3 separate regions of the Homo sapiens genome follow, and all the other regions are reported to be linked to region 1. Evidence: microRNA targets listed by miRTarBase, many of them from high-throughput screens and not tested one by one. Region 1 holds a microRNA gene; each other region holds the end of a gene's coding sequence. Distances are from middle to middle.
Evidence for each region. The annotated mature microRNA hsa-miR-1247-3p reads CCCCGGGAACGUCGAGACUGGAGC and lies in region 1 at 1,410-1,433, shown strand. An mRNA with a match to its seed (bases 2 to 7 or 8) in the 3' UTR can be bound and repressed. Matches are read on the target gene's strand: a 7mer-m8 pairs with bases 2 to 8, a 7mer-A1 pairs with bases 2 to 7 and ends in A, and an 8mer does both.

Region 2: the mRNA of CCDC127 is a reported target of hsa-miR-1247-3p. The part of its 3' UTR that is shown has no 7-base or 8-base seed match.
Region 3: miRTarBase lists FANCM as a target of hsa-miR-1247-3p. The part of its 3' UTR that is shown has no 7-base or 8-base seed match.

Annotation. Positions count from the first base shown.
Region 1 is chr14:101,558,574-101,561,758 of GRCh38, reverse strand. It overlaps MIR1247 (microRNA 1247), which reads left to right and starts at 1,337; the gene lies at 1,337-1,472. It overlaps DIO3 (iodothyronine deiodinase 3), which reads right to left and starts at 264. Exons shown (of 1, transcript NM_001362.4): 1 at 1-264. The coding sequence starts at 262. It overlaps DIO3OS (DIO3 opposite strand upstream RNA), which reads left to right and starts at 1,337. Exons shown (of 2, transcript NR_152588.1): 1 at 1,337-1,507.
Region 2 is chr5:202,641-205,640 of GRCh38, reverse strand. CCDC127 (coiled-coil domain containing 127) reads left to right here. Exons shown (of 3, transcript NM_145265.3): 3 at 1-3,000. The coding sequence ends at 344. Among named protein-coding and RNA genes, the nearest start is that of LRRC14B, 13 kb to the right of the region's middle.
Region 3 is chr14:45,199,461-45,202,460 of GRCh38, forward strand. FANCM (FA complementation group M) reads left to right here. Exons shown (of 23, transcript NM_020937.4): 23 at 410-1,430. The coding sequence ends at 548. Among named protein-coding and RNA genes, the nearest start is that of MIS18BP1, 52 kb to the right of the region's middle.

The DNA of each region.
Region 1 (3,185 bases):
TGTTGAGCTCCACTTCGGGCTCGGGCTGCCCCCGGCGGCGGCGGCCCAGGAAATGCTTGCGGATACACAAGAAATCGAGAAGCCAGAGCATGAAGGCCGTGCCGAGGAAGCGCGGGAAGAGCACGAGGCACGAGGCGGTCTGGGCGCAGAGCCTCAAGGAGTGAAGCAGCAGGGAGCGGAGCATGGTGGCTGCAGGCCCCGAAGCCCCCTGGGACCCCTCGCCCTCTCCGACCACCAACCGCGACGTGGCCTGGCGAGGCATCTGGGCTTCAGCAGTGCAGGGAGTTCAATTTATAGCGGAGGCTTCAATTGGCGGGAGACTCCACCTCCGGCCCGGCCCGCCCCCTTGCAACTTGAGCCCGGAGGGATCACCCAGCAGCGCGGCCAATGCCCTAGAAATCTTGGGCTGAGGGCGGGCGCAGGCGGGCGGAGGGCGGAGCGGCCGGGCCTGGGGCCGGTGGGGGCGGGCCCGGGCCCCGCAGCCAGCTCTCGGGGGCGGGGGACTCCGGCAGCCGCTGCCGCTGGGGACCGGGAGCCCGACCAGGGACCTGGGCGTCCGCTGGGGAGGTCCTCCAGCTGGCGCGAGCGCTGCGCGCCGCCCTGGTCCCCGCCGCCTGGCTCCGGCCCGCGCCCCCCTCGCCGCGCACCTGAGCCGAGCTCCCCGGCGGCCGCCGAGCCGCGCCGGAGCTCCGGTTCGCTTCCCGCGCGCCGCCGCCAACGCCGCCCACGCCGCTGCCGCTCGTGCGGGGCCGCTGCCCAGGTGCCGCGGGAGGCCGGGTCCGCGGCCGCCGCTTCGGTGGCCCCGGCTCCCGCCCCACCGAGGACGCGGGCCAGCGAGGAGGCAACTTTGCGTTCCCGCCGCCTTCCTGGCTCGCCCGCGGGCGCCGCTCGCCTGCCGGAGCCCGCCCGCCCGCCTCCCGCGCGCGCTCACACTCGCGCCTCGCACACGGCCGCCCCCCGCACCGCCCCGCCACGCACACCGCGCTCCGCGCCCCCCGCCGCTGCCCGAGGCTGCCGCGCGCCGCCCCAGCCCGCGCCGCCCTGGCCGCGCCCGCCCCGTCCCATCTCGTTCCAGCGGGGCGCCGCGGTTCCTGGGTCAGCGGCCGCCGGGGCCGGGCTGAGAGGTGCGGAGGGCAGAGCCCGCGGGCGGGTTACCGCCGGGCGCCGGAGACCGGAGAGCTGGGGAAAGCGGCGCCGGCCCTGCGCCCCCAGCCGACCCGGGCGCGGGGCGCCACGGGCGTGGGGCGCGGGGCAGCGGGCGCGGGGCGGCGCCGGCCCCGGGCGGCTCTCCCACTAGGGGTAGCTGTTGCCTGAACGCCGGAGCGCTCCCCTCTCGCCGCTTGCCTCGCCCAGCGCAGCCCCGGCCGCTGGGCGCACCCGTCCCGTTCGTCCCCGGACGTTGCTCTCTACCCCGGGAACGTCGAGACTGGAGCGCCCGAACTGAGCCACCTTCGCGGACCCCGAGAGCGGCGGCGCGACTCACCGCGGAGGCGCCCGGACGCGTCAAGTGCGTACTTTCAACCGTAAATGGGTGCTGAGCGTTTAGGGGTGCGGGGCAACTCCCTAACTCGTGGGGCCCTGGCCGGCCCTGCCGCGGCGTCCGAGACCTTCTGATCCCTCGCTGCGCGCGGCGCGGGGTTGGCGACTTGGGCTCAGGGGCGGCGGGGCGGGGAGGTGCCTTGACCTAGGGACCCAGAGGCCGGGAGCAAGTCTCCTTTCGCCTTGGACTGCAGTGTCCCCCAGGGCAAGGCCTGAACCAGGTCGCGAGGGTCTGTCTCCCGTCTGGGGAGCTGAACTGCCCGAGACACTGTCGCAGTCGCGGGGACTTGTCTGGAGCGGCGGGGTCTGAGCCCAAGTCGGAAGCCGCCGCCGCCGCCAGCGTCCCGTGCGCCTGCCGCCCCGGGACCAGCCGCGAAACTTCTTCTCGGGACGGAGACAGCGCTCGCCGCCCGGGCCGAGGTAGGAGCTGGCTGGGCTCGGTAGAGCGCGGGCGAATCGCTTTCGGCAGCGAAGGAACGTGTCGGGAGAAGCCAACTGCAGGACCAGGGCCCCAGCGGGCGCGCAGAGACGCCTGCCTTGGGCGGAGGTCCCCCCCTCCGGTTTTCGTGGCTCTGGTAGGGCCCTCTGTCCCGTGAGCTCCTCACTGGACCTGAGGCTACAGGCTTCAGCAGGTCAAGCGCCCGAGTGTGCCTGGAGGATTGGCGGCGGGGTGGCATGAGAAGGTGGCCCCTCTTCTCCATCTCCCAGTCAGGCGATTTCTCTGCTGTCTGGGGCAGGGGCGCACACCCCAGGAACTTACTACGTAGAGGGAAGCCAGCCTGGTCTCTCCCCCTTGCGTCAGTGCTCCTAAGCTGCCCCTCACCACTCTGGGTAGGGGTCTTTCAGGTGGGCTAGGGAATTCTCCTTGGAAGTCCCCTTGTTTGCTCCCCTCCATCAGGGCACCTCTGAGTTAGCCAATCATCCTCTTTTCTGGCCTCTTTTTTGCGGGGAGGAGAGTAGAGAGAGAAGCCTCCTACTCGGCAGGTCTCTGAGAGGAGGTTTGGGGGGGCTTCTGAGGTTGCTCCTCCTGGGCAGAGTCAAGGGGTGTTGAGGGTTCCAACTTTTACTGGACAATCTCTCAAGCTCTGATTCCCTGATTTCTGGGAGGTGTCAGTGTAGGGCTTGTGTCCTGCCCCACCCACACAGCATTTGGTGCAGGCACATGGGATGGTTCCCCAAGCCCTTTTCCCACAGTTAGTTTCAGAAAATGCATAAGCCACCTAAGGCTGGGAGAGCCTTTCTGTGCTGGCTGAGATCTGGTGGCATGTGCATGCATATGTGTGCAAGTGTGTGTGTGTGTGTGCAAGTGTGTGTGCGCATGTGCATGTGTGTGGAAAGTATGGTCTGGGTGGCTGTAAGACTGGCCCCTCTTGTCCCCTCTGCAGGCCCAGCCCAATAGGAAGCACCTGATCCACACTCTTTCTAGCCCCAGGGATGCTCAGGAAAGCAGCCTTTCTTTAGGGCTGTCATCTGTTCTGGGGATCTGTTGCTGTTTCTTGGGCCCACAGAATACACTCCACACCTCGGGACTCCATAATATTGGACAAGGCTGGAAGGCCCATTTGGCTCCTGCAGCCTCTTATGCAGGTGAGGACAGACCCAAGGTCCAGGCAATGCTGGCCTTTGGAACACAGAACCTGGCTCAC
Region 2 (3,000 bases), not on the chromosome of region 1:
GGGAAGAAAACTGGCAAAGGAGAGCCAGGCTTTTGCTGAAAGAATTTGAAGCTGTTCTCACAGAAAGACAGAATATCTACTGCAGTCTGTTTCTTCCTCGCAGCAAGCGGCTGGAGATAGAGAAGAGCTTACTGGTGCGAGCGTCCGTCGACCCCGTCGCCGCTGACCTAGAGATGGCAGCCGGTCTCACCGACATATTTCAGCATGATACATACTGTGGTGATGTCTGGAACACCAACAAACGCCAGAATGGCAGACTCATGTGGCTCTATCTCAAATACTGGGAACTCGTTGTCGAACTGAAGAAGTTTAAGAGAGTAGAGGAAGCCATACTAGAAAAGTAAGACAAGAGTGAAATCAAACTGCTTTTAGTGACTCGAGGCCAGGCAGTCATGCGCCTTCTGGGTCTCCGGCGTCTTCCGTTCCCGTGCTGCCCGTGTCATGGCCACACCGTCACCCTTCAGCAGCGACCTCCACTCCCGCCACCGTCTGAGCAGAAGTGCACCGAAGCCTCAGAGACAGAGGGTCTCCTCCCGATGCTCTGCCGCTGTTGGGGATATGGTTTCTTGAAGCATTTTTAGGCTGCCAGTATTGTATTAAGCAGAACAGTATAACCTCGTATTTTAGCTCCAGGGTAAAAATGGTTTTTTAAAAAGTCAAATACAATACTGGTCCTTACCACAAGTAATTTTCTGTCTGTTTCATCACTCCCTAAATACTTTCTCCTCAAATTATTTTTCTCTGTCACCAGATTACATTAAGAATTTGTCAGATAATGTGTAGAACTGCATAACAGGTAATAGGAAGTAGTAATATTATATTATCAAGGGTTTATATTTTAAAGATCTCTCTCACTCCATAAAGGGGAAATACCAAGTGTTTCTTGTATCCAGTTGTTACTTAATGTGTGTTTGTTGTATGCAGTTGTTACCTAATGTGTGTTTGTTGTATGCAGTTGTTACCTAATGTGTGTGTGTTGTATGCAGTTGTTACCTAATGTGTGTGTGTTGTATCCAGTTGTTACCTAATGTGTGTTTGGAATTTGGCTTGTGTCTGTATTCAGCAAGCAGATACTTATTAGCAATGATATATACTCAAAATACTTGCCATTTATGAGTAATAATGCCACTTTTTGTGTAATTCTTCACTCTTTACAAAATATTTTTATATGTATTATCTCATTGTTTACCACAGCCAACAAGGTAGACAGGCACTTATCACCCCATGTCACACATAGCTACTGGGAATTGAGCCTGTATACCTGTTCACTCATGGAATCCTCAGTCGAATCCTGTGAAGTGAGTATTACTATTACGCTTTGCGGAGGTGCCCCAAGGCCAGCCCCCAGGTGCGTGACCTGCTGGGAGATCTCACAGGACTCAGCACAGGGTTGGACTCAGCACAGAGCAGAATCAGCAAAGGGAGAGGGTGTGTGGGTGGCGCTCAGAGGAGCCACGTGTGGACACCCCAGGATCCACTCCCTGGAGTCATACAGGACACACCTAACTATTAAGAATAAGCTCACTGGAGACTCAGCACCTGGGGCTTTTGCTAAGGGCTGGTCATGTGGTACCCCCTGCCTGGCCTGTGTGGGAATTCCCCACTTGTCCAGAAGGAGGGTGGGTTTGGTGTGGTCTGTGCCGTGAGCACAAGTACTGTGGTCACAGAGCCACGCGTAGGAGTTAATGGTGCTGGGAAGTCTCCCAGAATCCGAGTTCCCAGATGTCAGTCAAGGGCCAGCCTTGCACACAGGCCCTGGTAGGACACAGCCTTGGGCCTGCTGTGTGAATTCGTCACCACGCACCTCACTTTACGGAGATGTGGAAGAGCTAACCTGCCTGAGGTCACGCAGGTAGTAGTGTTGGAGCCAGTCTGAGCCCGGGCACCTTTTCTCCAGAACCGCGAGTAACCTGTGTGCAGTGATTTGATAGTGTGTGGCCAGGCAGGAGCGGGAGCAGGTTGTCCATCTGCTTTCAAGGGCCATGTTCTCCCCTCCTGCCCGTCTGTACGGGAGTAGGAGCAACTGTTAAAAATCCTAAGCTCATAGAGCCCACGTGGCAGTATGAGAGCCACTATTCATGGAGTGCATGTTCCACCCTGAGCTGTACACGCTTTACACGCATGCGTTGTTTGAAATCCGTGGAACCCCTTGAGCGCGGCGGAGGCGGGCTCAGAGCCAACATGCGCTGCCTGCAACAGACACGGGCCCCCTGCCATGCTCTGCTCTCGGCACCCACGCCCTGCTAAGGGTGCTCAGATGCTTCACCCAGGCAGGAGTGCAGTGGTGTGATGGCTAAGGGTGCTCAGATGCTTCTCTTCTTCAGTGGCTGCTAGCGTGCCTCTCTGCTCTACCACCATCGCTTTATCTGAGAAAAAGTCACTTTTATTTTCATTTTTTATTTTTTTTGAGAGGGAATCTCTGTCACCCAGGCAGGAGTGCAGTGGTGTGATCTCAGCTCACTACAGCCTCCGCCTCCTGGGTTCAAGCGATTCTCCTGCCTCAGCCTCCTGGGTAGCTGGGATTACAGGCGTGCGCTACCACACCCAGCTAATTTTTGTTTTGTTAGTAGAGACGGGGTTTCACCATGTTGGCCAGGCTGGTCTCGAACTGCTGACCTCAGGTGATCCACCGCCCCCACCTCGGCCTCCCACAGCACTGGGATTACAGGTGTGGGCCACGGCACCCGGCCCCTAAAAAGTCATTTTTTCGGTAAATCTGGACAAAACTCTTCCTGTTGTTGTTTGTACTTCCTGATGCATCAAGACCCTTGCCTAAAGAGCGGTGCAGGCTCCATTCCTGCGGCAATCCGGTCTGCTGGGTGTCCCTGTGTGAACCACTCCACGTTTGTCTTTAAATGAAGAAAACACAGTCAGCTGCTTTGTAGGTGAATGATTTTCGAGGCAAATTGTTAATCCTCATCCTGTTTCTAATGTCCAGTGTGCTGTCAGCCTAGCTTCCTTCTATAGTGAGATAGATATGTTCAGAGCCTTCAAGCTGGT
Region 3 (3,000 bases), 56 Mb from region 1:
TCACAGACTACTGCCTTCTCATTGTATCCTCACATGGCAGAAATAGAGCTAGCTAGCTCTTTGACCTCTTCTTAAAAGTGCACAAGGATATCCACCTTTATCAACTAATTCTCAAAGTTGCCACTTCCAAATACCATCACATTGGGATTACGGCTTCAACATATGAATTTTGGGCAACACAAAAACATTCAGTTCATTGAAGATGTTGAAATTGTTATTCTAGATAATTTTAAGGAAAGGAAACAAGTAGCTCTTTTATCCAAACTAATGTTCAAGACATATCAGCTGGGCGGATAATGCTTGAGATGATTTCCTTAAAGGCTACTGTGTTTGGTGTTCTTTAGGTAATATTAAATTTTATAAAAGCCAAAAGTCCTAGTGTAATGATTTTGTCTCATTTATTTTTCAGCTCACTTCAAGAAATCTCCATGTATGCACAAGTAACTCATCAGAAGGCTGAGGAGATCTATAGATATATTCACTATGTATTTGACATACAAATGTTACCAAATGATCTTAACCAAGATAGACTGAAATCTGATATATAATCAAGCTGCTCAAGATGGGGTTTTCAAAGACCTCTCACAATATTAAATGCACTTCAATAATCATTGCTGTTTTATGTTTATTTGTAAATAAGAGAATATTTTATTTAAATATTTTATATTGTATACATTTTTATTTATAGATTATAGAAATTATTAAAAAAGAAAAATCTGATGTTCAGTGATCATTTTGACTAGATTATAAAACTAATTTTTCTTATTAAATAAAACAAGGTTTATTAAAAGTGTTACTAAGGATAGTTTAAGAAAGTAAAAGCTAAGCTAGAGATATACTTTGGAATGTTTCCCAAAATTAAAGTTGTACTGTTGTGATAAATAGTAAAGTTGACATGTCTATGACTACAGCCAACTTGTCGATTTTCCCTATGTGTAGATAGTATACTTTTAAGTGTACTGATTCTAAATACATGTACTTGGTAAGGTGTGGGTGATGGGTGGGTTGTGAGATAAATGACCCAGTAACTAGGAAAGTAGAAAACTTAACTGAATGTTTATCTGACCAAAGGTGTGTCCCAGTTAAGTACTGTCAAATCTATTAATATGAACTCTGATATGGTTTGGCTGTGTCCCCAACCAAAATCTCATCTTGACTTGTAATCTGAATTATAATCCCAATATATTGGGGAGGGACCTCCTGGAACGTGATTAGCTCATGGGGGCGGTTCCCCCATGCTGTTCTAGTGATAGTTCTCAGAGGATCTGATGGTTTTATAAGCTTTTCCTCTGTTCACTCTGCAGTTCTCTTGCCTACTGCCATGTGGAAAAGGAAACGTTTGCTTCCCCTCCACCATGATTGTAAGTTCCCGAGGCCTCCCCAGCCATGCAGGACTGTGAGTCAATTAAACATCTTTTCCTTATAAATTACCCAGTCGGGTTATTTCTTCATAGCAGCGTGAGAATGGACTAATACAAACTCCCAGCTACATTACTCTTTTTTGTTGCTGAAATATATTCAAAATGGTATATTGGTTTGGACTTAGAAAGTTTCTTTTTAATATAAATTACTGAATGCAGGCCCATTATGTTGACCCTATTATATTTACCGTTTTGATCCATTCTGTTGTCTGTGATGGCATTAAGAAGGCTCTGCTTGGGGCCGGGCGCGGTGGCTCACGCCTGTAATCCCAGCACTTGGGGAGGCCGAGGGGGGCGGATCACGAAGTCAGGAGATCAAGAACATCCTGGCTAACACGGTGAAACCCCATCCCGTCTCTACTAAAAATATAAAAAAATTAGCCGGGCATGGTGGCAGACACCTGTAGTCCCAGCTACTCAGGAGGCTGAGGCAGGAGCATGGCGTGAACCCGGGAGGCGGAGCTTCCAGTGAGCTGAGATCGTGCCACTGCACTCCAGCCTGGGCGATAGAGCCAGACTCTATCTCAAAAACAAACAAAAACAAACACAAACCAAAAAAGAAGGCTTTTCTTGTATCTGCAATATATATGACATCTTTCTTCTAGTCAGTCTAGTACTAAAGCAGCCTTGAATTATGTGAGTCCTTTATTCTCGGCCTCATTTTTACCCCTATTACATTGTTGGGTAGTTGAACCAGCCTCACTGCAGAGCTCTCCTCACCTTAAATCTGGCGGGGACTTCAGAGCTCATGTAATTCAAATCACTTCTCTTTCCTTTCTTACCAAATGATAAAAGTGATGCCCAGAAACAAGTGACTTATTCAAGTTTAGACTGGCAAATCTAGAAGCAGAACTCACAAACTAGGTATCATTCTCTTTCACTCTATGGTGTTGATAAAAGGGGACAAAAAAGTTACTCTAATTGTTTAGCTCCTTTGAGATAGTATCAACTCTCAATTTGTATGAAAGCAGCTGACTTATGTATGCTGCTCAATAATTCTGTCAAAACCACAGAGAGGAAACACTAAGTTATTGCCTAGTGTGCAGTTATCAGTTTATTATAACTGGACTTTTTGAGTATTTCTCCTTTAGTAGTGAGCACAATGCTAAGCTGTGACAGGAGGAAAGGAGCCTCTTTGTGGTTCCACTGTGCTACATCTTCATGTATCTTGCTCCTGCCACATTGTCAGCAGGGCCTGTGGGTAGGGACATCTGGTGGTGCTTTGCCCCAGCTGCATGCCAGAATCATGCAGTCCCTCAACAACCTCACACAGAGATACCACCACCTGCTCAGACTCAGCTGTGTGTGCACCCGTCAGACAAAAAAAAGTACATAAATTAACATGGTGTTACAGACATAACCTAGAGGATTTCATTTATTTATGCTTGCTGTATGGAGAGCTCTATCCATATTTAGGCTTGCAATAGCCTCCTCCTATATCCTCATTGGTAGCCATTAACCATTCATTATCCATCTTATTATTTAAGTCCTTAAGGTCTTTTTTCTTTTCCACTTTTAAGTTTCCTTTGGGGGTTACTTACCTTAAACCTTATCATTAGTTCATCTTATGACCTGATAG